7 linked regions of the Homo sapiens genome follow. The protein of the gene in region 1 interacts with the protein of each later gene in a pairwise test. Each region holds a gene or a part of one and is shown in the gene's direction. Other genes may lie near its edges. The genes, in order: YWHAE, PUM1, SORBS2, KIAA0930, PLEKHA7, CDK16 and RICTOR.

Region 1 (3,500 bases):
TAGTACAAGAAAGTGGGGAAGAAAGGCCGGGCGGGGTGGCTCACGCCTGTAATCCCAGCACCTTGGGAGGTCGAGGCGGGTGGATCACCTGAGGTCGGGAGTTCAAGACCAGCCTGGCCAACATGGTGAAACCCTGTCTCTACAAAAATAAAAAAATTATCCGGGCATAGCTACTGAGGAGGTTGAGGTGGAAGAATCACTTGAACCCGGGAGGTGAAGGTTGTAGTGAACCAGGATTATGGCATTACACTACAGCCTGGGCAACAGAGCGAGACTCTTGTCTCCAAAAAAAAAAAAAAGAGGCCAGGTGCGGTGGCTCATGCCTGTAATCCCAGTACTTTGGGAGGCCAAGGCGGGTGGATCACCTGAAGTCAGAAGTTCGAGACCAGCCTGACCAACATGGAGAAACCCCGTCTGTAGTAAAAATACAAAATTAGCCGGGGGTGGTGGGTGCCTGTAATCCCAGCTACTTGGGAGGCGGAGGCAGGAGAATCACTTGAACCCGGGAGGCCGAGGTTGCGGTGAGCCGAGATTGCGCCATTGCACTCCATCCTGGGCAACAGCAACAATAAAAAACGGGGAATATAGAGGGGAAAAGTTTACCCGTTTTTGGGGAGCAGAGGGGTAACATAAACTACATTTGGGCTTGTGGGGCTGTTGTTGGTTTTGTCCTTTCCTAGTCTCTTCCCTATCAAGATTGGCTTCATGGAAGGTAGGATGAAGTTTTGATGGTCATGTTGGATTCCCTAGGAATGCATCTGTTGAGTCATTTACTTGAGAGCTGTCTTTTTTTTCTTTTGAGACGGAGTCTCGCTCTGTCTCCCAGGCTTTATTGAAGTGGCACAATCTCGGCCCACTGCAACCTCCGCCTCCAGGGTTCAAGCGATTCTCCTGCCTCACCCTCCCGAGTAGCTGGGACTACAGGCATGTGCCACCATGCCATGCTAATTTTGTATTTCTTTTTTAGTAGAGACACGGTTTCTCCATGTTGGTCAGGCTGGTCTCGAACTCCCGACCTCAGGTGATCCGCCCACCTCAGTCTCCCAAAGTGCTGACATTAAGGACCTGAGCCACCGCGCCTGGTCAAGAGCTGTCTTTTTTTTGAGACGGAGTCTTGCTCTTGTCGCCCAGGCTGTAGTGCAATAGCGCGATCTCGGCTCACTGCAACCTCCATCCCCTGGGTTCAAGCGATTCTCCTGCCTCAGCCTCCAAGAGTAGCTGGGATTACAGGCATCCGCCACTATGCCAGGCTAATTTTGTATTTTTAGTAGAGATGGGGTTTCGCCATGTTGGCCAGGCTGATCTCGAACTCCTGACCTCAGGTGATCCGCCCGCCTCGGCCTCCCAGAGTGCTGGGGTTACAGGCGTGAGCCACTGAGCCCGCTGAGAGCTGTCCTTTTAAAACACCAGATCCTCATCTCTAGCTAGCTTATTCTGCTAGTTAGTGAAGAACAGGGAAGGGAGCATGTGTGGAATGAACTTTTTACTACGGTCTTGTTAGGAAAAAAATAGGTAGTAGTAAATTAACGTTGTTAATAAGTTTAGAAGTATTTAGATTAACTACCAGTTCTTTGACTGTAGGCCAGTAATTTTCCATTGCCGTTTCAGTTAATGGACTAACTTTCTGGAGTAAAGTTTATTTTTCTCCTTCTTAAATGCATAGACAGAACTGAGTAACGTAGTGTTAAAAATCCCTTCTACGACTGGGCTCTGTCCCCCAGGCTGGAGTGCAATGGCGTGGTCTTGGCTCACTGCAACCTCCGCCTCCCAGGTTCAAGCGGTTCTCCTGGCTCAGCCTCCCAAGTAGCTGGGACTACAGGCGCGTGCCACCACACTCGGCTAATTTTTTGTATTTTTAGTAGAGACGAGGTTTCACCATGTTGGCCAGGATGGTCTTTATCTCCTGATCTCAGGTGATCTGCCCACCTCAGCCTCCCAAACTGCTGGGATTACAGGTGTGAGCCACCGCACCCAGCCAATTTTTGTGTTTTTGGTAGAGACAGGGTTTTACCATGTTTGCCAGGCTGGTCTTGAACTCCTGACCTCAGGTGATCTGCCTGCCTCGGCCTCCCAAAGTGTTGGAATTACAGGCGTGAGCCACCACACCCGGCCTGATTGTTTTTTTTTTTCATGGATGACTGTAAGGGTGACTGATACTGCAGGCATATTTTTTCTTTATATTTCAAGAACACTGTGTACACAAACAGTAATGACAAGCATGGAGTAAAGGCTGCAGTTTTATTTTTATTTATTTTTTTGAGACAGTCTTGCTCTGTCACCTAGGGTGGAGTGTAGTGGTAGGATCTCGGCTCACTGCAGCCTCTGCCCCCTGGGTTCAAGCGATTCTCCTGCCTCTGCTTCCCGAGTAGCTGGGACTACAGGCGCCCGCCATCGCACCTGGCTAATTTTTGTATTTTTAGTAGAGATGGGGTTTCACCATGTTTGCCAGGCTGATCTCTGACTCCTGACCTCAGGTGATCCTCCCGCCTCAGCCTCCCAAAGGGCTAGCATTACAGGTATGAGCCACTGTACCTGGCCTAAATTTTTAATTTTTTAATGGGCACATATTAGGTGTATGTATTTATGGGAAGGCTAAATTAAAAAAAAATTTTTTTTTGAAACAGGGTCTTGCTTTGTGACCCAGGCTGAAGTGCAGTGTCGCCATTATAGCTTACTGCAGGCTCGACCTCCTGAGTTCCAGTGACCCTCCTGCCTCAGCTTCCCTAGTAGCTGGGACTGTTGCACCGGCCTAATTTTTGTGTTTTTTTTTTTTTTTTTTTTTTTTTGTGGATTTGAGGTCTCTATGTTGCCCAGGCTGGTCTTGAATTCCTGGACTCCCACCTTGGCCTCCCAAAGTGCTGGGATTACAGGTGTGAGTCACTGCTTCTGGCCTAAACTTTACATATGTGTATATGACATTATGCAGTACCTCAGTTCACAGCCCACGTTGACAAAAGTTTTTAATTTATGTAACAAGATTGAAGCAGGTAGAGCGTTACTCCCATTTTCTGGTTCAAGAAAGTGAGTTTGAGAGAGAGATTTTTTTATGATCATGTGGCTAATCAGTTATTAAATGGTAAAGCCAGAACTTAGTGTCTGCTGACCTTTAGATCGGTACACTTACTCTCAGCCACTCAAAAGACCTCTGTGAAGTAAGGTGGTGCCTTTCAGGGGAGTAGGGGGTGAGTAGCGTATGCTTGATGCTTGTTCTTTAACAATTCTAATAGCATCTACTTCACATCTTGATGTTTGTGATGACTGATATCCATGGTGAATTGTAGACAAAATCTTTTCACTTTCCTAAAGAAACCTGATGGTTTTTTTCAGAGATAAAATCCCATCTCAAGGCACAGCGAAATTAAAATGAGGTGAAGTTTAGGTACTCTCAGAATGTTTATTCGCATACAGATTCTTAAAAAACATGATTTATTGTAGGCAGATGTCACCTCTTTAAGCAAAAGAAAAAAACAACCAAAAAAAGAAAAGCCCCAGCCGGGTTC
Region 2 (3,500 bases), on another chromosome or scaffold:
CAGTCTACCATCAACGGTAAAAGCATTCCCTTCTCAATCTTTGTGCAAAAGTTTCCTTCCAGGTTGTTGAGTTGACCCACGAAAGTCATGACGCTAATAGAATTGTCTTGACACAAAAACAACAGCATTGAAGAAATCAGAAATGGTGCAGGCTTTCGGGTGTGGGAATGCTTTTTTCTCTCTTGAATGAAGTTGCTGAAGAGTGGTCTTAAGTTATCCTGTTCTGTAACCAACAGGAGGACTCACGAATGGCAGTGGAAGATACATCTCTGCTGCTCCAGGCGCTGAAGCCAAGTACCGCAGTGCAAGCAGCGCCTCCAGCCTCTTCAGCCCGAGCAGCACTCTTTTCTCTTCCTCTCGTTTGCGATATGGAATGTCTGATGTCATGCCTTCTGGCAGGAGCAGGCTTTTGGAAGATTTTCGAAACAACCGGTACCCCAATTTACAACTGCGGGAGATTGCTGGACATATAATGGAATTTTCCCAAGACCAGCATGGGTCCAGGTGAGTACTTGGCTTTGGCACTTTAAGGTACCCGAAATTGTAATGCCTTAACTGTCTTGGCTCAGATGGGTATCTACTTAAATAAATTGCCATATAGTAATTTTTTAAAAGCGTGCCTCTTAGTTTGCATCACATTATTTCATAGGGATTTAAGAAACAAACATGAACACAAAGACATACATACACTTCGGCTGCTTTAAGCATTATGAAGAATCTTTTGCTCTCAAAGAGTTGCTATTCAAATACAAGTTTGATCTAGGGTGCTGAGGAGTAAGACAGCTCTACCACCTTTCTTTGTTGTTCCACTCTGTAGAAGTGACAGTCTATGTAGAGACGAGAGAAGAAACTATTATAGAAGACAGAATTTGGTTTGGTTTACCCCTTCCTGTTGGGCTGCTGCAGTGGGCTTCACAGAAAGCGAATCTGGTCCTGGGGATAGAGCATAATTATGGTGACAACACCCATCCTTCTTTCCCATTTCTGTTTCTGTTTCTTTCTCTGATACTGTGTCCAGTGAAACAGTTTCTACAGAAGCTACCTCCTCCTTAAGTTCTGCCAGCTTGCTACTGGGCCAAAATTTCTCATATTTGAATTCTATAGGCTAGATTCAGAGGCAACATGATTTTCCTGATAGTGGTCATTTGGACTAAAAAAAGGCAGACTGTTACTACTTCAGAAGATAATGAATACTGTTTTGTTTTTGTTTTTTTGTTTTGTTTTGTTTTGTTTTGTTTTTTTGAGACAGAGTCTTGCTCTGTCGCCCAGGCTGGAGTGCAGTGGCGCAATCTTGGCTCATTGCAAGCTCTGCCTCCCGGGTTCACGCCATTCTCCTGCTTCAGCCTCCCGAGTAGCTGATGAGTACTGTTTTATATGAAAATAAGTTAAAGAATATAGTAAGGACTGTAAGCTTTGAGTTCATTGATGTGAGGCTGGTTTCTAAAGGAAAAAAGTCAAGTAGGGTACATGTTGTGTTATGTCTCCCTCCACCCCTCCTCTCTTCCTGCACCCCTGCCCCTCCCGCCCCCCCCCCGCCCCCCCCGCTTTCATCTTCCCTCCCACCTTGCACATAAATAAGATTCAGTATGCATGCCCTACTGGAATGAAATGTGCCAACATTTATATGTAATTTTCAAAGCTCAATTAAGTTAGGACCTTCTTCCTCTATTTAAAAACTCTTCAAGGGAGTTCAAGTGATTCATTCAAATAAAGTTTGGTTTATTGTGTGCATGTGTGTGCACACATGCTCACTCACATGTTTCAGAACGGATGCAGTCTATAAACCGAGGTACACTGATGTATCTCCAGGTCTTCCTTCAGTGCTGTGATTGCCCTTTTTACTTTGTACTTCAGATTCATTCAGCTGAAACTGGAGCGTGCCACACCAGCTGAGCGCCAGCTTGTCTTCAATGAAATCCTCCAGGCTGCCTACCAACTCATGGTGGATGTGTTTGGTAATTACGTCATTCAGAAGTTCTTTGAAGTAAGCCTTTGTTCTTTCTATCCTTTGACTTAAGAGAATCTGCAGAGCATTTTGATTTTCATTAGCCTTTTTAAGCATAGCAGTCCCATTCCAGTCCTCAGAATGAAGGGTGTGTGGTCTTTTTGAAGAGGTTTTTAGTGTTTTTCCAATTCATTAGCAGCAGTCTATCTATTCTGTATGGTTTAAATATCCGAGCAGATAATGCCAATCTATTTTGGAAATGTGTTTCGAAAACTGGTGTCCCCATTTAGGACCCAGCACATTATTTCAGATTGTTATAATAGTTTCACAAAACGTGTCACTTAAGGAGGAAATAATCCTTGTAAAGTAGTTTTAGCAGGATCACAATAAAATATTGCCAAAAACAAATTTTTCTAAGGTTCTTAGAGAATTGTCTTTGGACACCGACTCCAGTATGTTTCATTATCAGCTAGGGTCACAAGAATTGTTAAATGCTGCTTCTTGGCTGATCGTTTGGCCTTGATTTCTTGTTTTACTTCTGTTAATTTGAATAATGTTCACTTGTTGTATCATTGTCTTTGGAAAGAATGAGATTGTTAGGTTGATGTCTTTTCCCTCTAGTGAGGTAAAATTTCAGAGAGGCAGGGACTTTTTTGCTTACCATTGTAGCCCTTATTATCTGGTATTGGCAACCCTAAGGTGTAGATGCAGAATGGCACAAAACTTCGAGATGAGGAGGAGTCTGGTATGGGGAGGAAAATGCTGGAATTCTGCACATTACCTACCACAAAACAAATTTGTAAATGTCTTAACATCTCATCCTGTTTGATTTGTATGAAGATGAAAAACTGACGTACTCAAGTTTTACCTTCCCAAGTTTTTTCATGAAGACTTATGTTTTTTCACCCTGAATTCTTCAGCTTTGGACTAAGAAACCAATCTAAACATGACTTTTGTATTTTTGATTTTAGAATGACTTTGCACTGCCGTTTTGTCACATATATAAAAATACTGAGCTTTCTAGTTCTGGAGGCTGATGCACCTTGGGGTGACAAAATGTACAATGGATTATAGCCATATGATTTGGACCAAGCTTGAGAACTTCTCTGGATCTTAGTTTCCCTTGGGAGAATGAGGAGGTTGGATGGGCTGAGAATTCATAAAGTCTCCTCCAATCTCACGATTATGTGATTGAAATGAAAATAATAAGCCAAGGATGGAAAATCATTCTAAGTAGAATTTTAACATTGTGTAGCCTCACTTCTTGATTCTACTGATTTTTCCCCTCCCAACTCTGTTACCTTGTGTAAATAGGAGAAAAAAAAATCAATTCTCTTAATGATGTAGAATACTATTTCAAAACAGTGTGTCCATGTGTGCTTTGGCAGTAAGAGTGTAGGATTCTTTTTTTTGACACACAGTCTTGCTCCATTGGGCAGGCTGGAGTGTAGTGGTGCTATCTCAGCTCACTGTAACCTCTGCCGCCTGGGTTCAAGCGATTCTCCTGCCTCAGCCTCCGGAGTAGCTGGAGTTAACAGGAGCGTGCCACCATGCC
Region 3 (3,500 bases), on another chromosome or scaffold:
GAAATATGTTCTAGAAAAAGTTGCAAGTTATCGAGAGGGCTTCCAGTCTGGCTCAGCATTTCCTGTTTAAAAGACACCTTTCTTTTTGAGGCATCCTTACCCCACCACCATCACTCACCTCACCAACACATCTTTCACAACAGCATTTTTTAACATTGGATTTGTCTTCATTTCCCATTGTGCAACACTGGCTTTGAAAGCCAGGAGAGGCAGGAGGATTTCCTGAAGGTGTGTTTACGTTTCCATAAAACTCCGTGGGTTTTCTTTTGTTTTGTTTTTGTTTCTGTGGTCTAATTAAACCAGAATGGTAAATAAATTTGGACAAACATGCTGGCTTTCATCAGACAAAAATGAAGCAGGAGTCTGTGCCAATTTTGTTGCGTTAGCTCTGAGACCTTGAGATTCTTTCCAGCAGCTGAGGTTTGCAGCCTTAGGTAACCGGTCTCCATGAGTGGGTGGAGATGAGCCTGGGCAGGGTTCAAGCCTGAGAAGCTCAATAAAAGAATCAGTTTTCCCAAAGTGAGAAATGCCGTGTGTATCCATCAAAACAGCAGCCCAGGAACCACCATCTCTCTCAAATGTGAAACTGGAAAAGGGACCGTGAACTTTCCCCACAGATACACAAAAGATACCACCCCTTCACCTGAGCAGCCTCCAAATCAAATTCTTTACACAAGCAACAAAATAAATGGACTACCCCTAGCAAAGCTGGCCACATGCAAACATCCAAATCAGGTGACGTTTCTGTATTCCACACCTGCCTGTCTTTTTGGCCACTACTCTGGGATGCTAGCTGCCTTTCTCTGCCCTTCCCCATAATCACAAACCCCTCTCTCAAGAAAAGGCCTCAGAAGCCCATGCTCAAAAGGATATAAGTGGCTGTAAGGTCTACTGGAAGGATGAAGTTTTAACAGGAGAAGAAGCCTCTAATGTTGAAATTTCAGGCTTTGGTGCCAGGCCAGGGAAAACAATATTTTCTAGGGGATGTTGTTAGGCATTCTCTGAAGCCAACTCTATCCAGCTCCCCCAGTCCAAATGCTGGATGAACGGGGGGAAGCCAGTAGGTCACTGTTGCTTATTAATGACATAAGATTTGAGTTTAAATGATAGAATAGTTTTGTTCTACCAAAATATTATTTTCTGACTCATAAAGTAATTAAAAATAAATCATTCTTGTTCCGGAGCGGTAGTCAAGATTATCAACTTTTTTAAGTTGGCATGAAAAAATCTAAAATACCCTAGAAAGTGGTAATTATTTTCTCACATTAGCAGAATGACATGACTGTTACAGAAAGCAGCAGAAACAAATTCCCAATTTTTAAAAACCCCCTCACAGTACTGGTAATATTTTAGTACTATTATGAAGAAGTTTTCATGTTAACTGCCTATCAAATTCTTCTTGACCTTCTCAGCTACAGTAATTTCGCCTTCATTTTCCAAAAACACCAGCCCATGTTACTATTTATTATAATGTATGGTGTTTTCTTACCACAAATTCAGTGTCTGAATTCATTATTGATCAATTTCCACCACAGTATATGCTGTCAAAGAATTCAGGCCGGGAAAGGAAAGTGATAGCATTCTATCAATAATTCTTTTTTATATAAAATTATTTCAAGAGAGAGTTTTAAAATCAAATACAATTTTTCTGGGACTCATTTTAAAAAGAGACTTATGTCCATAGTCTGCTTGAAATGGAATCAGTAATAACTGCACATAGAATACATCTACTCAACTTCATAGGCTAATTACATCAAATCTTCCAATTCTACATCCTCAGAAAACACTGATCCAAACCATAACATTAAACTGATCTAAAGAATTCCTCTTAGTAAAAAAAATAATTTTCCTTTGTATAGTAATTCACACAGAGTGATTAAAAAGACATGTCTGACACATTTTGTCTATCTCCATTTAGAACCTTTGAAAATTCAATTCTCAAGCCCCCATTATTTGCTTCTGATTATGGCTAGCTAAAATTGTGATTCCTTCTTGTTTTTAAACAGTTAAATAATACAAATATCACTTATTTTATATTTTGTACTATTATTTAATGTCTAAATGATAGACGTTAGATGGCTGGACAACTGAAATGCGGGTCTGACTTATACATGTTGACATATTTTAATCCAATTTATGAATGTTACAATTTTCATGGATATTCCTCGTGAGTTTCAAAATGTTGTTAGAGTGTTCTAATGCCTGTGAAGATCTACATATTGCTATGTACCTGCTTACCAGGCTTGTACCATCCAATAGAATGCTATTTACATGCTTACCAGGCTTGTACCACCCAACAGAATGTTGTTAAGAATAGGAATGTTAAAGGAAGAATGAATATTGTTCTATCTTCTATATTTCATGAAGGTGTCAAGATGTTTTTAAACACATTCCCTTGTCCTGTTTAAGGTTTCAGGCTCTGTATAACTATACTCCCAGGAATGAAGATGAGCTGGAGCTCAGAGAAAGTGATGTCATTGATGTCATGGAAAAGTGTGATGACGGCTGGTTTGTGGGTATGTGCGCTTCTTCCTCAGGCACCTTCGGCTATTTTGTAATTTGCTTGAGTTTGCTCACTCCCGTGGTTTGCTGTGATGGCCGAGCTTCCTTTGAATTCGTAATGCCTTTGATCTTTCAGACATTCATATGCACAATGTAATCCCAAGGCTATTGCATTTTTAATATAGTTTAGTATTCACTGCTTCAGCTATGTGTGATTTTCTGCGAGCTTTATTTCCAACTCAACTGAGAGAAGACAATTTCTTTAAATAGCAAAAACCAGGAAAGATTGAGATCTAAGAACAACAACAACAAATGGTCCCCAGAAGAGAAATATCAACGCTCTGTGCTGTGGAAAATGTTAGTTGTCCACAGTGAGAATCTAATTTCAGAGGGAGTGAGATTAAGTGAACAGCTCTCCCGTTTCCTAGGTCTGACGTAGATGCCCGAACATTCAGTGACTCACCTTAACTTTAGTTTGTGGTGGAAGCAGAGAGACGTTCCATTCTTCCCACTTAAAAGGCAACTTCATCTTTACCATCCTAAAAAAAAAGACGAGAGGTCTTCTGGGAAAACATTTGTAGACAAAAGTATTTTACACTGGGCCACAGAAAGAGGTGAAAAGGAAACACAGGCTGCAGGGCAGAGAATGGAAGAGAGGAAAGGTGAGAGGAGAGGAGGGCTCACTCTAGACATCCATCGGTGGCAAAATCATGAAAGAATTGAGGCCCTGGTGCGGCCACAAGCCTCTGATTTTATTTCCATTAAAAGAAGAAAAAAAGGCCGGGTGCGGTGGCTCATGCCTGTAATTCTAGCACTTTGGGAGGCCGAGGCGGGTGGATTACCTGAGGCCAGGAGTTCGAGGCCAGCCTGGTCAACATGGTGAAACCCCGTATCTACCAAAAGTACAATAATCAGCTGGGCTTGGTGGCAGGTGCCTGTAATCCCAGCCACTCAGGAGGCTAAGGCAGGAGAATTGCTTGAACCCAAGAGGCAGAGGT
Region 4 (3,500 bases), on another chromosome or scaffold:
TTGCCAGTCTGTGATCCTCCAACCTTGTCTTCTTACCTGAGAGCTCTCCCCCTGGCGTTTCAGGCTTGTCTTCCCCGAGCAGGAAGCAGAGGCCCCCTCTTCCCCATCGGAGGACCATGAGGCCTGGGAGCTGAGCCCTGAGCACAGGCCAGGCCAGCTCCCCAACGGCACCCACACGCACACTGACCTTCCACTCCTGGTCACCCCTCACTGCAGGCCACCCCAGCTTGCCGGGCCTCAGAGACAACAGAGACGTTTGCCCCTCAGGGTCAGTACATGTGCCCGGCCTCTGCCAAGGCCCCCGGGTCTCAGAATTCAACCAGCCTCTCCCTGTCACTGCTGTAGACAGGAGCTCTGCAAGCCCCAGTCCAGGCTCTCCCGCTAAGGGTTCTGTGGGATTGGGGAAGCCCTGGTGCATAGCTGCAGCTCCTGTGCAGCCCCAGCCCCGCTCTTCTGTCTTCTGGAGGCCCTTGTCCCTCTGGACCTCTGATCCCTCCTGCATGCGGTGCTGGGCTAGGCAGGGCCAAGCGGGACTTGTAAACAATACGTCATCTAATATCATAACCCCTGTCAGGTAGGAGTTAGCCCGTGTCTTACAGGGATGAAGCAGAGGCTCAGAGGGTTGAGTAGACCTTCCCTCGGTCATTTCCAGCAGCTTGGGTCTGGTGCACTCAGCTTCCTAAGAGGGCAGAGCTCACTGCCTATCACCCAAACCCGGCTGTCCTGCCCACCCTCCCAGCGTCCTGAGAGCAGCCACCAGGTCCCCTGGTGAGTCAGCCTAGTGAAGGTCCTGCCACCCGGGTGGGCACCCGGGCTGTTCTGCAGCTGAAGTAGAAGCGTGTTTTGACTGGATGTGATTTCCCACTTTCCAGGTGATGCCCGCCTCTGGGCCTTTATGGCTGTGGCTGCTGTGCTGAGGGGAGCTTTCCCACCCAGGCCTACCGACTCCTTGGAAGTGGGGCTGCATGCCCTGCGTGGCCTGTGCTGGGGAACTCGGCCTAGCACCTGTGCTTACCCGTTCCACTTGAACCTCAGCCTCCACTCCTTAGAACACCTCGCCTGCCTCAGTCTGCCCACCCTGTACCACACCGTGTCCAGAGCACAGAACCCTGGGGAACTTTAAAACAAAATGCCCATTCCTTCCCCCGACCTGGGCATCTGAGTGAAAGTCCTCCTGGGGGGCCCTGGAGTCTGTGGTGTAATTCATTCGTTCCCTCTGTCTGGGTGTGTCAGCCTGAGTTGGTGGCCACTGGGCTGTCTGTTTACCACCCCTGCCCCCATGTGATAGATGGGGCCACTGAGGCTCAGAAGCAGGAGGGACTGGCTGTGATGCCTTCCTCCACCTTCCTGATCTGGCCTGCTCCCAGCCACCTGTCCTTGGATCCACCTGAGCCCCAACAGCATGAACCTTAATGTCATCGACATTGACACCTGGCGGGGGTGGGTGGGAAAATTAACACTCCACGGGGTCCCTTCCTCACCCCCAGAGATACCTGTGCCCCTGAGTCAAAGCCGAACTCTGCACATCAGGGAAACGGAGGCTGAGGTCACATACAGAGCCCTGGCTCAGCCCCACCACATGGAGAGGCGGTGGGCCAGCCTCCCCTGGAGCCGGTCCCCACCCAGCCCACTCTGCAGGATGGGCATTCTCCTGGGAGAAGATGTGACTCCAGGCTTCCTGTGCCTGATGAGCTCTACCCTCCCAAGGTAGGGGGGCAGTTTGCTCCCAGTGTCCCAGTTTCGGCTGAGGCAGCAGAATGCCCTCTGGGTCACAGCCCGTCCTGGGGGAGCTGGGATGGAGAGAGTCCCAGAATTCAACCAGCCTAGCCCTATCACTGACACAGACAGGGGAGACTCAGAGTGGACCCCGACTGTCTCAAACAGGGTGAAGAATCAGGAGGGCTGGCTGCCTGATCTCACCAGTGCTGCCTCTTGCCCCGTGGTGCAAGTGAGGAGACCGAGGCAGGTGAACAACAGGCAGAGTTCCCTTACTCCACGTGTCCATTATCTTTAATGTAAAAGGGCTTTGTATTGGGATGTGCTTTGAATCTTGAAAAATGCTTTTCACACTTGGAGCAACACTTATGGCAGAGAAAGGGAGAAAAGCAGAATACAAATCCACATGTTATGAAGCGTGTGGATTATCCATGTAATTATAATAGAGAAGTGCTGCCCTGCACACCCTCGTGTGTCCTCACAGCAGTGCTGAGCAGAAGGCAGGAGGGGTGTTGTCCCATTTACAGAGGGGGACCAGGCCTCAGAGTGATAGGTGGACCTGGGGTGAGGTGGCCTTGGACTAGGCTTCTCCCTTCTGGTTCTTTCTGAAACCTTGCTTCATAGGCACCTTTCCAGCAACAACAGCCATTCAAGACCCTTGTGCCTGTTAATTTTGTTTGTTTGTTTTGAGAGGGAGTCTCGCTCTGTCACCCAGGCTGTAGTGCAGTGGCGCGATCTCGGCTCACTGCAAGCTCCGCCTCCCAGGTTCACGCCATTCTCCTGCCTCAGCCTCCCGAGTAGCTGGGACTACAGGCACCCGCCACCACACCAGCTAATTTTTCGTATTTTTAGTAGAGACGGGGTTTCACCATGTTAGGATGGTCTTGATCTCCTGACCTTGTGATCCACCTGCCTCGGCCTCCCAAAGTGCTGGGATTACAGGCATAAGCCACTGCGCCTGGTGTGCCTGTTAATTTCTTACCTTCTCTGCAGTTTTTACCCCTGTCTGAGTGTACATTTTTATGTATTTGTAGTCACCATTGTGTCATTTGTGGAGGTCATATATATTGAACCCTGGAAATGCAGTGCTGAATTAGGGTTGATCTGACTCTTGGGAGCTTGGCCCTCCCTGGGGAGGGGGTGGTGGCAGGCAGGTACAGGCTGATTGTTCATGCCTCTGGCTTCCCACCCCTGCCTCTGTATCCTGTTCACACACATCGCTGGGACAAGCCCAGACATCCCTCGGATCTTCAGGCCCCACTGCCAATGTAGGAGGTGAAAACTATCTTTCTTCCCATCTTAGGTTCATGGCTGAGGTTCCTATAACAAAAGGCAGAAGAGAGAAAAGTATAATTTAGTGTAAGTTTTACATGATACAGGAGCCTTCATAAGGAAGTGAAAATCCAAAGAAATGGGCTCAACCTGTGTATTTTCTTTCTTTTTTTTTTTTTTTTTCTGAGACGGAGTCTCAGATCTTGGCTCACTGCAACCTCTGCCTCCTGGGTTCAAGCGATTCTCCTGCCTCGGCTTCCTGAGTAGCTGGGATTATAGGCGGCCACCACCATGCCTGGCTGATTTTTATGTATTTTTAGTAGAGAGATGGGGTTTCACCATGTTGGTCAGGCTGGTCTTGAACTCCTGGCCTCAGGTGATCCATCTGCCTCAGTCTCCCAAAGTGCTGGGATTACAGGTATGTTGAGGCACCGTGCCCAGCCTCAACCTGTTTATTTTCTATGCTAGGTTTGATAAAGAAGTGGGTCATTGTGGAGGAGTCTGACTGGATA
Region 5 (3,500 bases), on another chromosome or scaffold:
GAGGGTTCTTTTTTTTGGTGGGAGATTGTACAGCATGTTTGTTTTGATGGGAATGATCCCACTGAGAGGAAGAAGTCGATGCTGCAGTAAAGAGACGGGGCAGTTGCTGGAGCAGTGTTTCTAAGAAGGTGAGAGGGATGGGATCCATGGCCTGCATCTCACTAGCGTCACCCAGGGGCAGGGCCCATCATTCATTTGGCGGGAGGAAGGGCTGCAAGTGTCCCAAAGTACCAGGTGCAGCCTTGGGCTGGGTGTGTGAGGCCGCGTGTGGGACTCTGGAGGCTGGAGCACAGCCTTCCACACCTTTGCTGACTCTTCCATGGTAACTTGTCTGTGAGGTCCCTAATGATTTTCCTACAGTGAGCTCCTGTGCCCCCAGGGCCTTGGCTGACTCCTCCCAGGCCTAGAAAAAGCAATGTGTGACAGTGTTCCCTACCCTCAAAGGCAGGGCCCTGTGGCAGGTGATTGTACTTCTGACGTCCTTCTGTGACAATTTTTTGAGAGACTTAAGGGTTTTGGGAGTAATTGTTCTCTCCCTCATCCCCCGCCCCCCACATGAAAAATGTTTTACTGTTGTCTGATTTCTTAGCTTTGCCGTGAGCATTTCTGAATGTTTGATTTTTGTGTTGAGGGCAGGAGCCTCCTCTAATCTGGCTCATAAAGTGAGAGCGACAAAGCATTGACATGGCTGATTTTATTTTTCCTAATGGCTCCTTGCACAGGAAAGTTGTGTGAGGTTTTACAGGATGTATTCAGTTGCTCCTCATATTTAGCAGATTAAAACATTTTAATTTTTGAAAAAATTTTAAGAAACAGAATCTTCCTCTGTCTCCTAGTCTGGAGTGCAGTGGTGCAATCATAGCTCACTGCAGCCTTGAACTCCTGGGGCCAAGTGATCCTCTCACTTCAGCCTCCCAAGTAGCTGGAACTACAAATGCAGGCCACCATGCCTGGCCAGCAAATGTTTTAATACTCTCCAGAGTCCATTTCTTTTCTTTCTTTTCTTTTTCTTTCTTTTTTTTTTTAAAGACAGCTTTGCTCTGTCGCCCAGGCTGGAGTGCAGTGGCACGATCTCAGCTCACTGCAACCTCTGCCTCTTGGGTTCAAGTGATTCTCATGCCTCGGCCACCCCCTAAGTAGCTGGGACTACAGGTGTGCACAACCATGACTGGCTAATTTTTGCATTTTTAGTAGAGACAGGGTTTCACCATGTTGGCCAGGCTGGTCTCAAACTCCTGACCTGAAGTGATCCGCCTGCCTCAGCCTCCCAAAGTGCTCGGATTACAGGCATGAGCCACTGTGCCTGGCCTCGGAGTCCATTTCTTGAAGCAGAAAAGCTTGAGGTTAGGCAGGTGAATTTTTGTTTTGATTTCTGCACTTTTTGTTCAATTTTGCATTAATGAGGGACAAAATGTATAAGAAATCTACTGTTGGTTCTCCCAGTTCTAGACTAAGTGATGTTGATAACCCCTTTAAAAAGATTTTTTGGCTGGGTATAGTGGCTCATGCCTGCAATTCCACACTTTGGGAGGCGGAGGCGAGGGGATCACTTGAGGCCAGGAGTTCAAGATCAGCCTGGGCAACACGGAGAGGCCTCATCTGTACAAAAAATGAAAAAATTAATGGTGGTATGCTCCTGTAATCCTAGCAACTTGAGAGGCTTAAGTGTGAGGATTGCTTGAGCCCAGGAGTCTGAGTTTACCATGAGCTATGATTGTGATACTGTACTCCAGCCTGGATGACAGAGTGAGACCCTGTCTGTAAATAAATAAATAAATAAATAAATAAAACGAAGACTTTTTGTACTCTAGCACTTCTCTACTATGAATCCCTTAGCTGGGTAGCAAGGTATAATAGTAATTGTGATAATAGTGTCATTAACAGAAGTAGCAATAATAGTAGTAATAATTATATAACAGCCTAATCTTTTTGGGTCTTTGAAAAATGCTAGGAACTGTTCTGTAACTGTCATTGATTTAATTCTCACAATAGTTTGATGAGGTAGGAACTACTACTAGTTTCGTTTTACAGACATAGAATCTTGCCGTAATCCTGGACATTCCTATAGCAGATGGTTTTTTTTCTTGTGTCTTTTCTTATTTGATCCTTATAGCAGCCCCTGGAGGCAGGAGGGGAAGAATCATCCCCATTCTTCAGATGATGAAACTCAGGTCCATGAAGGTTCAATGATTTTGCTGAAGTGTTAGAGCTGGGACTGGAACATAGGTCTTTGGTCCCTCATGTGATAGCCACAGTAGTAGTGGTAGCTCCTACCCCAGGCCATGCATCTTGAAGGAGATGAATGCCCATATGCCATTGCTCTGAGTTAGGCTTCCCCAAGGCTTATGGGGCCAGACTCCATCTTTGCTTTTTCTGGGGATTGAGGTACTTTGGAAGGGCAGTACCCCCTGGTCTCCTATGTTGATTAGGGGTGGTACATGTCTCTGATTAGTAAGAAATTGAAGACATTGATTATTAGTAAATACAATTTGGCAGACACAGCTTTTTCAAACATGGGACCTATGAGGGAGAAGTTTCTAGAAGAGGCCATGGGAGTTAGAGTATTACACTGGGCTGCTCTTCAGGGGTTTCATGGAACCTTGTGAATTCCGTTCCCCCTACAGCAGGCATTAAATAGGTCATGAGGCAATGAGGAGATGGCAGAGAAGAGGGGCTCAGCCACCTTGCCTGTGCCAAGGCTGTTCCTTGAAGGCAGGCATCTTATTCCCCACTTCTGTGACTTAGGCACCCAGCCCAGGGCTGGGAGCTGAGTAGGCACTTGGCATCTCTTGAGGAATCAGTGTTTTAAAGAGACCCAATGAGTTTTCTAGGTATTCCAGGTCTTGGAAAACTCCTTACTGGGAAGGAGATTGGGGTGGAGGAGAATAAGCAAGGTGAGAGAAGCTCAACAGCCAGGAACAGGCCTGTCAAGGCTGGTGCCTAGACCCAGGCTTCTTGGATACAGTCGCTTGCTGTTGAGAACAATGCTCAAAGCAGGAAGCTGGCTGGTGGAGGCTCAAACGGCCTCCTCTGCGTCTTCATTTCATATCCTTATTGCTCTGCATCTGGGACTGGGATACCTGTTGGCTACTGGACTAGGCTGTCTTCCTTCCCTGGCTGCTGGGCCCTTGGCATCATCTGTGACTTGGCACAAGGGTGCTGGCAGGAACCAGCTGATTGCACAAGACCCTTTCTAGCTTCAGGTTTCTCAGTTTTAGCTTTGGGGTTGTGTGGAGCCACCCTGTGTAGGTACTTTCTTCTTGTGGGTGCCTGTCCCCAAGTGAGGACAGCTAGACTCTGGGAAAGACATTTCTGAGGCTTGGAGTAAGGCTAACTTTCCCCTCCCCTAGGACCTGAAGCAGGTCCTAGGGGCAGGACTGGCTACATAATTTGCAGAGCCTCAGTGTAAAATGAAAATGCAAGGCTCCTTATTGAAAAAGAAGGAAAAAGTATTAGCTTGGTGCAAATGTAATTGCGGTTAGTGCTATTACTTTTAATGG
Region 6 (3,500 bases), on another chromosome or scaffold:
TGGTTCTAAGACCCCCCAAAACACTCTGGCTTTCATGGGAATGCCTGTCACCCACATATCCAGGTAATAATCAGGGTAACCAGGAATCTGTTCCCATTTGGATAAAAGGTAGATGAATTGCAAACCAGGGTTTGGTTCTGAGAACACCCCTGAAAGTGCTCACCAGTTTATTTACTGTAACAATTTCTAGTCAGAATATCACATGGAATGAATTTGAATTGCACTGAAATTTAGTGTGCAAATTCGATTTCACGCGATGCTGCAGGCCTATGTACTGAGGGTTGGAGCCAGGCCCCTTCCCAGAAACCAAAAACAGGTTGTGAAAATCTAGTGTCACATGAGCCTGGGGCTGCAATCCCAGGTTCTTGCTCCATACTCTCCTCTGAGTCTTATTTTCCACATCTGCAACATGGAGACACAACTTTCTTCTGGCATGAGGCGGGTTAGAGCTGGTGGCTCCGAGGCATTACCCTGAACTGTCTAGAGAAAGAAAGAAAACCTGGGCTTGTCCCTTTCTAGTCCTTGTCCTCACCTCTGTCCTGAGGGTAGGACCCTGACTCTTCCCCTGTCCCACTCCCATGCTTCCTGCAGTGTCCCTGCTCAAGGACCTCAAACACGCCAACATCGTTACGCTACATGACATTATCCACACGGAGAAGTCCCTCACCCTTGTCTTTGAGTACCTGGTAAGGTTGAGTGGCAGTAGGTCCCAGGGGGAGGTGAGGAGAAGGCCAGGAGCCATAGGAAGTAACCCTCATTCCTGTACCACCTCTTCTTTCCTCAGGACAAGGACCTGAAGCAGTACCTGGATGACTGTGGGAACATCATCAACATGCACAACGTGAAAGTGGGTGTGGGGCAGGAAGCAGGGGCACAAGGGGGCCCCCACTCACCCACTCCAACCCACAAATCTCCCAGAAACGGACTTTTCCCTTTGGCTTTTTTTGCTAGGAGCCCTTGGAGGGCACTGGGACCCTGTCCTCTTTTGTGTGACAAGGCTCTGGGCCTAGTGTCTGTGTTTGGGAGGGGAGCAGTGCCTGCTGGGGGTCGGGCTAGTGGATAGTCTTTGACCTCTGCCTGCCATTCCTGGGTCCCCAGCTGTTCCTGTTCCAGCTGCTCCGTGGCCTGGCCTACTGCCACCGGCAGAAGGTGCTACACCGAGACCTCAAGCCCCAGAACCTGCTCATCAACGAGAGGGGAGAGCTCAAGCTGGCTGACTTTGGTACCACTGGCCTCCCCTTTCTTATTGGCTCCCCAGCCTCCTACTTTCCCATGACCACTTAGTCTCACTTCCCTTCAGCCTTGCCAGATTTTGCCTAGGACACCCTCAGTCTCAACTGCACTCTCCCCGAGACTTTGCCCATGACTCCCTCATTCTAGCTGTCCTTTCTCTGATTTCCAGGCCTGGCCCGAGCCAAGTCAATCCCAACAAAGACATACTCCAATGAGGTGGTGACACTGTGGTACCGGCCCCCTGACATCCTGCTTGGGTCCACGGACTACTCCACTCAGATTGACATGTGGTAAGGACAGGTGGAAGTGTGGCAGGGGCCATGTGGTAAAGGGGGTGGCTTGGTCACAACAGCCACCCAGCCAGCTGCCTTTCTATTCACTGTGCCCTCCCTGCCCAGGGGTGTGGGCTGCATCTTCTATGAGATGGCCACAGGCCGTCCCCTCTTTCCGGGCTCCACGGTGGAGGAACAGCTACACTTCATCTTCCGTATCTTAGGTGAGGAGGCATGGGCCCTAGGCGCTGTGGAGACACACGGGGAGGACCTGTGAAATGTTTGGGATAACTCCTCTTCCCTACTAGGAACCCCAACTGAGGAGACGTGGCCAGGCATCCTGTCCAACGAGGAGTTCAAGACATACAACTACCCCAAGTACCGAGCCGAGGCCCTTTTGAGCCACGCACCCCGGTGAGGCTGGTGGGTGGGTGGGCGTTAGGGGCCAGAGTGTCCAAACTCATTTTAAATCAGGTCTCTTTGTCCTTGTGGCAGACTTGATAGCGACGGGGCCGACCTCCTCACCAAGCTGTTGCAGGTGAGACCACCTTGGGTCAGCCTTGGGGGTATGGGATTCCAAGTGTGGGGAAACAGGGACCCCCCCCCTCAAACCAGGGGCAGGGTCTGAGGTGGGCAGAGAGACCTACTTGTTGAAGATATCAATACTATCCCCCTCCCCGCACCCCCACTCAGTTTGAGGGTCGAAATCGGATCTCCGCAGAGGATGCCATGAAACATCCATTCTTCCTCAGTCTGGGGGAGCGGATCCACAAACTTCCTGACAGTGAGTGGAGCTGGGGAATGGACCGGCCAGCGTGGGGACTGGGAAACAGGACTGCTGGGGCCAGCTGGCGGGTTGTGTAGGATTCTGGCTGTGCCACCTCTACGTGGGGGGACATCTTGTTCACGTGTGTGATGGGTTGTATTTGTTATGAAAACATTTTTTAGTTTTCAGTTCCTTTTACCTTTCATGAAAAATTTAAAACATACATAAAAATATATGCAATAGCACTTTACTTTTTTTAAAGTAGACATTTCCTTACATGTGCTAAAAAATGCACAAATCATAAGTATACTATACAATGAATTTTCATAAATGAAACACATCCTTGTAACTAGCACAAAAGTCAAGAAACAGAATGTTAAAAGCTCCCCACCCCCAGCTCCCTTGCATCTCCTTCAGTTATTCCCAGCCCCTTCCCAAAGGGTGGCCACTGTTTTGACCTCTAACAGCAAGGATAAGTTTTTTCTGTCCTTGTACTTTATAGAAATAGAATCACATGTGATGTTCTTTTTATATCTGGCTTTTAAAAACTTTTTAATATGGATATTTTCAAATATATGTATTTATATATTAGTCAAAGTAATATGATGAGTCCCTAAGTACTCCAGTGAGTCATCAATTCATGGTCAATCTGGTTTTATCTATATTCTCTCTGATTATTTTGAATCACATCCAATCCCAGACATCATAGCATTTATCCTTAAATAATTTCAGCATATACCTATAAAAGATTTTTTTAAAACAACAATATTATTATCAAACCTACAAAAAACATTTGCTCACTTTCCCTATCTTCCCACTGGATTAATATATAAAGCAAACCCCAAACACCACCCATCACCTAGACTTAACAGGTGGTAATTGCAATACCATAATTCACTTGACAAAGTTAATAATGATTTCTTTGTGTCATGTAATAGTCTATATTTCATCTTCCCTGGTTGTAGCTGGTTTGTGTATGGAATTGTTTGACAGATAAAGGTCAAGCCTCTCAGAGAAGGGGCAGCTTTTTCTAATTCTTCCCATGGGGTCATATGGGGCTGGTCCTAGATGACCTCATGGGTCATCCCCCACTTCTATGTCTCCCCCATCTGTAGCTACTTCCATATTTGCACTAAAGGAGATTCAGCTACAAAAGGAGGCCAGCCTTCGGTCTTCGTCGATGCCTGACTCAGGTAGGTATAGCCCCTTGTCTTCCTCCCTGCCCCACC
Region 7 (3,500 bases), on another chromosome or scaffold:
GTGAGGAAAATGGCAGATATGGGGGTCATTAGTATATAGTACTAGTTGAAACCTGAGCCAAAAGCTTATGGATATGATAGAACATTTGCATTCATAATACCTTGATCTGTCTACCCTTTGCTAAGTATCTGACATATTTTAAATTTAGTGACTCATTGTGATACTATGTGCAATTAAAACAATATTATCCTCTAGGAATACAACTCCAAATATGTTGACTTGATTGAGGAACAACTCAATGAAGCACTTACTACTTACCGGAAGCCTGTTGATGGTGATAACTATGTTCGTCGGAGTAACCAAAGGTGCGTACCCAGTTATCAGATTTAAAACTAGTTCATCATAAATTATTTTTAACATTTCTGAGTTTTTGTATATTCTGCTTCTAACATGATATAGGAAGAATCTTAATGCGCAGCATTAATTGCTCAAAAATTCAGTGGCATTCATGGCATGTTGAATATCCTTACTGATAACGCATTCACATATACTCCATGCTGGCACCCCAGTCTGTATTTCTAGGCCTAGATTCTCTTACCAGTACTTTGAGCTCTGATAAACTGTTACAGGTTGAACATCACTTATCCAAAATGATGAAATGTTTCGCATTTCAGATTTTTTCAGATTTGGAATATTTGCATATATATAACGAGATACCTTGGGAATGGTACCCAAGTCTAAACATGAAATTAATCTGTTTCATATACGCCTTATACACGTAGCCTAAACATAATTTTATGCAGTGTTATAAGTAATTTTCTGTATGAAATAGTTTGCATTAAATACTAATGTGTGGAATTTTCCACTTACAGTGTCATGTCAGTGCTCAAAAAGTTTTGGATTTTGGATCATTTTGGATTAGGGAAGCCCAGCCTATATTTTACCTGAGAAATCCTCATTCCTTGTTACTTTCATATTTTTATTTATGCTGGAGAGTTGTATCTAATTTTATTTATCAAACATTTATTAAAATTCTTTTGTTCTAATTAGCATATTTAAATTAGCCAAGAGATATAGTAATCATCTTTATTATACTAGATTACAGCGTCCTCACGTCTACCTGCCTATACACCTTTATGGACAACTAGTACACCATAAAACAGGCTGCCATTTGTTGGAAGTACAGGTAAAAACATAATTCACTTATTTTAAGTAGCTACAATAGTAAAAAAAAAACAAAATCTTAACATTGCTAAAATATTACCTTTGCAAAAACTTCTCAAAAGCTTTAATATCAGTGGTGTAATTGCTTTTAAATTCATCTATTTTGTAATTGACTTAGGCATTCTATATTTATTAACCTGAGAAATATTAATGGCCTTGCAATGCATTAACTGACTTGTGTATGACTTTTTGAATAACTAACTTGTTATGTAGAGTAAGCAATCCAATGAAGATCTGAGTTCTTTTTTTAGAGTTTAGTGGAGAAATTCAGATCTCCAAAAACGTACTGAAAAACCGAGTTTTTCTTCCACTCATTGGGAAATTAAACTGAACCTAATACAGATTAAGTTATCCTTGTTGAGCAATAAATTGAAAGTTGCTGGTTGTGAGCACATTTTATTCTCGCGTACTTCATGGAATGTTAACAAGCATAGGCAAGCAGTTGTTCTTTGAGTTATAATATGTACACCGCATTTATGGTTGTGAATATGTCATGCAACTGTTTCCAATAAATGTAACGTTTCTCTTATTTTAGAAATAAAGTTATAGGAATATTTGTTTTTGTGACAGAACAATAGTTATTTAACAATTTAGTTCCCGATTGTATCAGTATTCATCTCAAGAGCACAAAGTTTTGCATAAATGTACTCTATAGTTTCATGTGTTTTTATATTACGTCTGTGAAAACTGTTGGGACAAGTATTTTCATATTAACATTTGAAAATTTCACTAAAAATTTAAATGATTTTCTCAGTGTTACTACTTACATAGTATGATAAAACCTAAGCACTAATTTACTTTCTGTTTTAAAGAATAAGTATGATTATTTAGTAATACTAAGTGCCAAGTACTTTGGTAAGCACTGTATGTGCAATAATTTATTAAATCTTGAAACCTTATGATGCAAATGTTATTATCACTCTTCTAGATATTAGGAAATCAAAGGATGAGGAGATGAAGTAACTTGCCCAAGGCCATGCAGTTAATAAGTGATAATTCTAGAATGTGAATTCAGAACCCCTGCCCTATGCTGCTTCTCAAGAAATTTTACATAAAATTATTTAGAATTTAAATATGCAAAAATGACAAAAAACAAACGTTATACTGGTTTTATGATGCAATAATAATATATTAAATACATAAATATATTATTACTCATGGTATTTTTTTTTCTTTCTCCAGAATATTATTACAGAACTCTGTCGTAATGTTCGTACACCAGATTTGGATAAGTGGGAAGAAATTAAAAAACTGAAAGCATCTCTTTGGGCCTTGGTTTGTAATAAACACTTCTGTAAGATCTTCGCAATTTTTAGATTTTTAAGTTTTTTTTTCATTTATACTAAATAGATAAATATTTTCTTTGGAACTACTTATTAGATTAATATTTAAGACTGGATTGTTCCTGCCAATATAAGTGTATTATCTCTATGTTGAAGAATAGATGGTTGAACTATTGGTTTCATGACTTTTGTTTTGTTGCTAAGACAACTAGAATTAATTCATGCCTAATGTTTTGTACTTGAGGAGGCTTTTACATTTTTTCTCTCTCAGAGATGAGGTTAAATTTGTTTCTTGGTAGCTTTCCAAATCTTTTGAAAGAGTGACTCTTATATTTGATGTAAGTGATTTCTTTTCTTTCAGGGAAATATCGGCTCATCAAATTGGGGTCTCAATTTGCTACAGGAAGAAAACGTGATTCCAGATATACTAAAACTTGCAAAACAGTGTGAAGTTCTTTCCATCAGAGGGTAGGTCATTTAACTCAGAAATCTTTCTAATGTAGACGTTGTTATTCACAAATGGATGTTAGGGGAAAGTATTTTATGATTAAGTGCAATGCATAACTGTTAATCCACTGAAAGTTCTAATGATACAAGATTATTAACTGTATTAAGTTAAACATCTAAACGAACTCCTTGTTTACTACTATAATTTGATTTTTATTATATTGAAGTTTACCTTGTAGGTAACAGGTAAGGCATAGTGTTGTACAGATACTCCAGTATTCCTGTAACCCAGCTGTTCCAGATTTATACTAGAAAAGCTAATATACCTTTTTTGCTCATGTTGCATTGTGTTCTTTTTATTTTGTTGTAATTACTATTTTTATTGGGAAGGTTTGCTTGTTTTTTATTGCTGCTAATTTATTCCTGACTAGTCTTAATAAGTTTTTTTTTTTCCACAAACGCAACCATTTTGGTGGGTTTTAGAGAAAGTTCAAAGTATGTATAGCAAATTAATCTGTGGTGGCTTTAAGAAATCTCAGCTTGGAATTATAACTGTTTTTACTGCATCTTTTATATACAGGACCTGTGTATATGTACTTGGGCTCA

The links.
Region 2: the proteins of YWHAE (region 1) and PUM1 interact in binary tests that used the Homo sapiens proteins (3 or more experiments, as listed by UniProt).
Region 3: the proteins of YWHAE (region 1) and SORBS2 interact in binary tests that used the Homo sapiens proteins (3 or more experiments, as listed by UniProt).
Region 4: the proteins of YWHAE (region 1) and KIAA0930 interact in binary tests that used the Homo sapiens proteins (3 or more experiments, as listed by UniProt).
Region 5: the proteins of YWHAE (region 1) and PLEKHA7 interact in binary tests that used the Homo sapiens proteins (3 or more experiments, as listed by UniProt).
Region 6: the proteins of YWHAE (region 1) and CDK16 interact in binary tests that used the Homo sapiens proteins (3 or more experiments, as listed by UniProt).
Region 7: the proteins of YWHAE (region 1) and RICTOR interact in binary tests that used the Homo sapiens proteins (3 or more experiments, as listed by UniProt).

Annotation. Positions count from the first base shown.
Region 1 is NC_000017.11:1,393,723-1,397,222, reverse strand, and holds part of YWHAE (14-3-3 protein epsilon), read left to right. Parts: intron 1-3,500. UniProt on the Homo sapiens protein: Adapter protein implicated in the regulation of a large spectrum of both general and specialized signaling pathways. Binds to a large number of partners, usually by recognition of a phosphoserine or phosphothreonine motif.
Region 2 is NC_000001.11:30,950,718-30,954,217, reverse strand, and holds part of PUM1 (pumilio homolog 1), read left to right. Parts: intron 1-236; coding exon 237-504; intron 505-1,854; coding exon 1,855-1,984; intron 1,985-3,500. UniProt on the Homo sapiens protein: Sequence-specific RNA-binding protein that acts as a post-transcriptional repressor by binding the 3'-UTR of mRNA targets.
Region 3 is NC_000004.12:185,588,695-185,592,194, reverse strand, and holds part of SORBS2 (sorbin and SH3 domain-containing protein 2), read left to right. Parts: intron 1-118; exon of another isoform or gene 119-290; intron 291-2,409; coding exon 2,410-2,516; intron 2,517-2,965; exon of another isoform or gene 2,966-3,041; intron 3,042-3,500. UniProt on the Homo sapiens protein: Adapter protein that plays a role in the assembling of signaling complexes, being a link between ABL kinases and actin cytoskeleton. Can form complex with ABL1 and CBL, thus promoting ubiquitination and degradation of ABL1.
Region 4 is NC_000022.11:45,230,895-45,234,394, reverse strand, and holds part of KIAA0930 (uncharacterized protein KIAA0930), read left to right. Parts: intron 1-3,500.
Region 5 is NC_000011.10:17,007,915-17,011,414, reverse strand, and holds part of PLEKHA7 (pleckstrin homology domain-containing family A member 7), read left to right. Parts: intron 1-3,500. UniProt on the Homo sapiens protein: Required for zonula adherens biogenesis and maintenance. Acts via its interaction with CAMSAP3, which anchors microtubules at their minus-ends to zonula adherens, leading to the recruitment of KIFC3 kinesin to the junctional site.
Region 6 is NC_000023.11:47,225,181-47,228,680, forward strand, and holds part of CDK16 (cyclin-dependent kinase 16), read left to right. Parts: intron 1-591; coding exon 592-686; intron 687-784; coding exon 785-847; intron 848-1,098; coding exon 1,099-1,222; intron 1,223-1,402; coding exon 1,403-1,523; intron 1,524-1,631; coding exon 1,632-1,729; intron 1,730-1,813; coding exon 1,814-1,919; intron 1,920-2,000; coding exon 2,001-2,043; intron 2,044-2,198; coding exon 2,199-2,289; intron 2,290-3,386; coding exon 3,387-3,464; intron 3,465-3,500. UniProt on the Homo sapiens protein: Protein kinase that plays a role in vesicle-mediated transport processes and exocytosis. Regulates GH1 release by brain neurons. Phosphorylates NSF, and thereby regulates NSF oligomerization. Required for normal spermatogenesis.
Region 7 is NC_000005.10:38,952,400-38,955,899, reverse strand, and holds part of RICTOR (rapamycin-insensitive companion of mTOR), read left to right. Parts: intron 1-195; coding exon 196-305; intron 306-1,038; coding exon 1,039-1,126; intron 1,127-2,346; coding exon 2,347-2,439; intron 2,440-2,808; coding exon 2,809-2,915; intron 2,916-3,474; coding exon 3,475-3,500. UniProt on the Homo sapiens protein: Component of the mechanistic target of rapamycin complex 2 (mTORC2), which transduces signals from growth factors to pathways involved in proliferation, cytoskeletal organization, lipogenesis and anabolic output.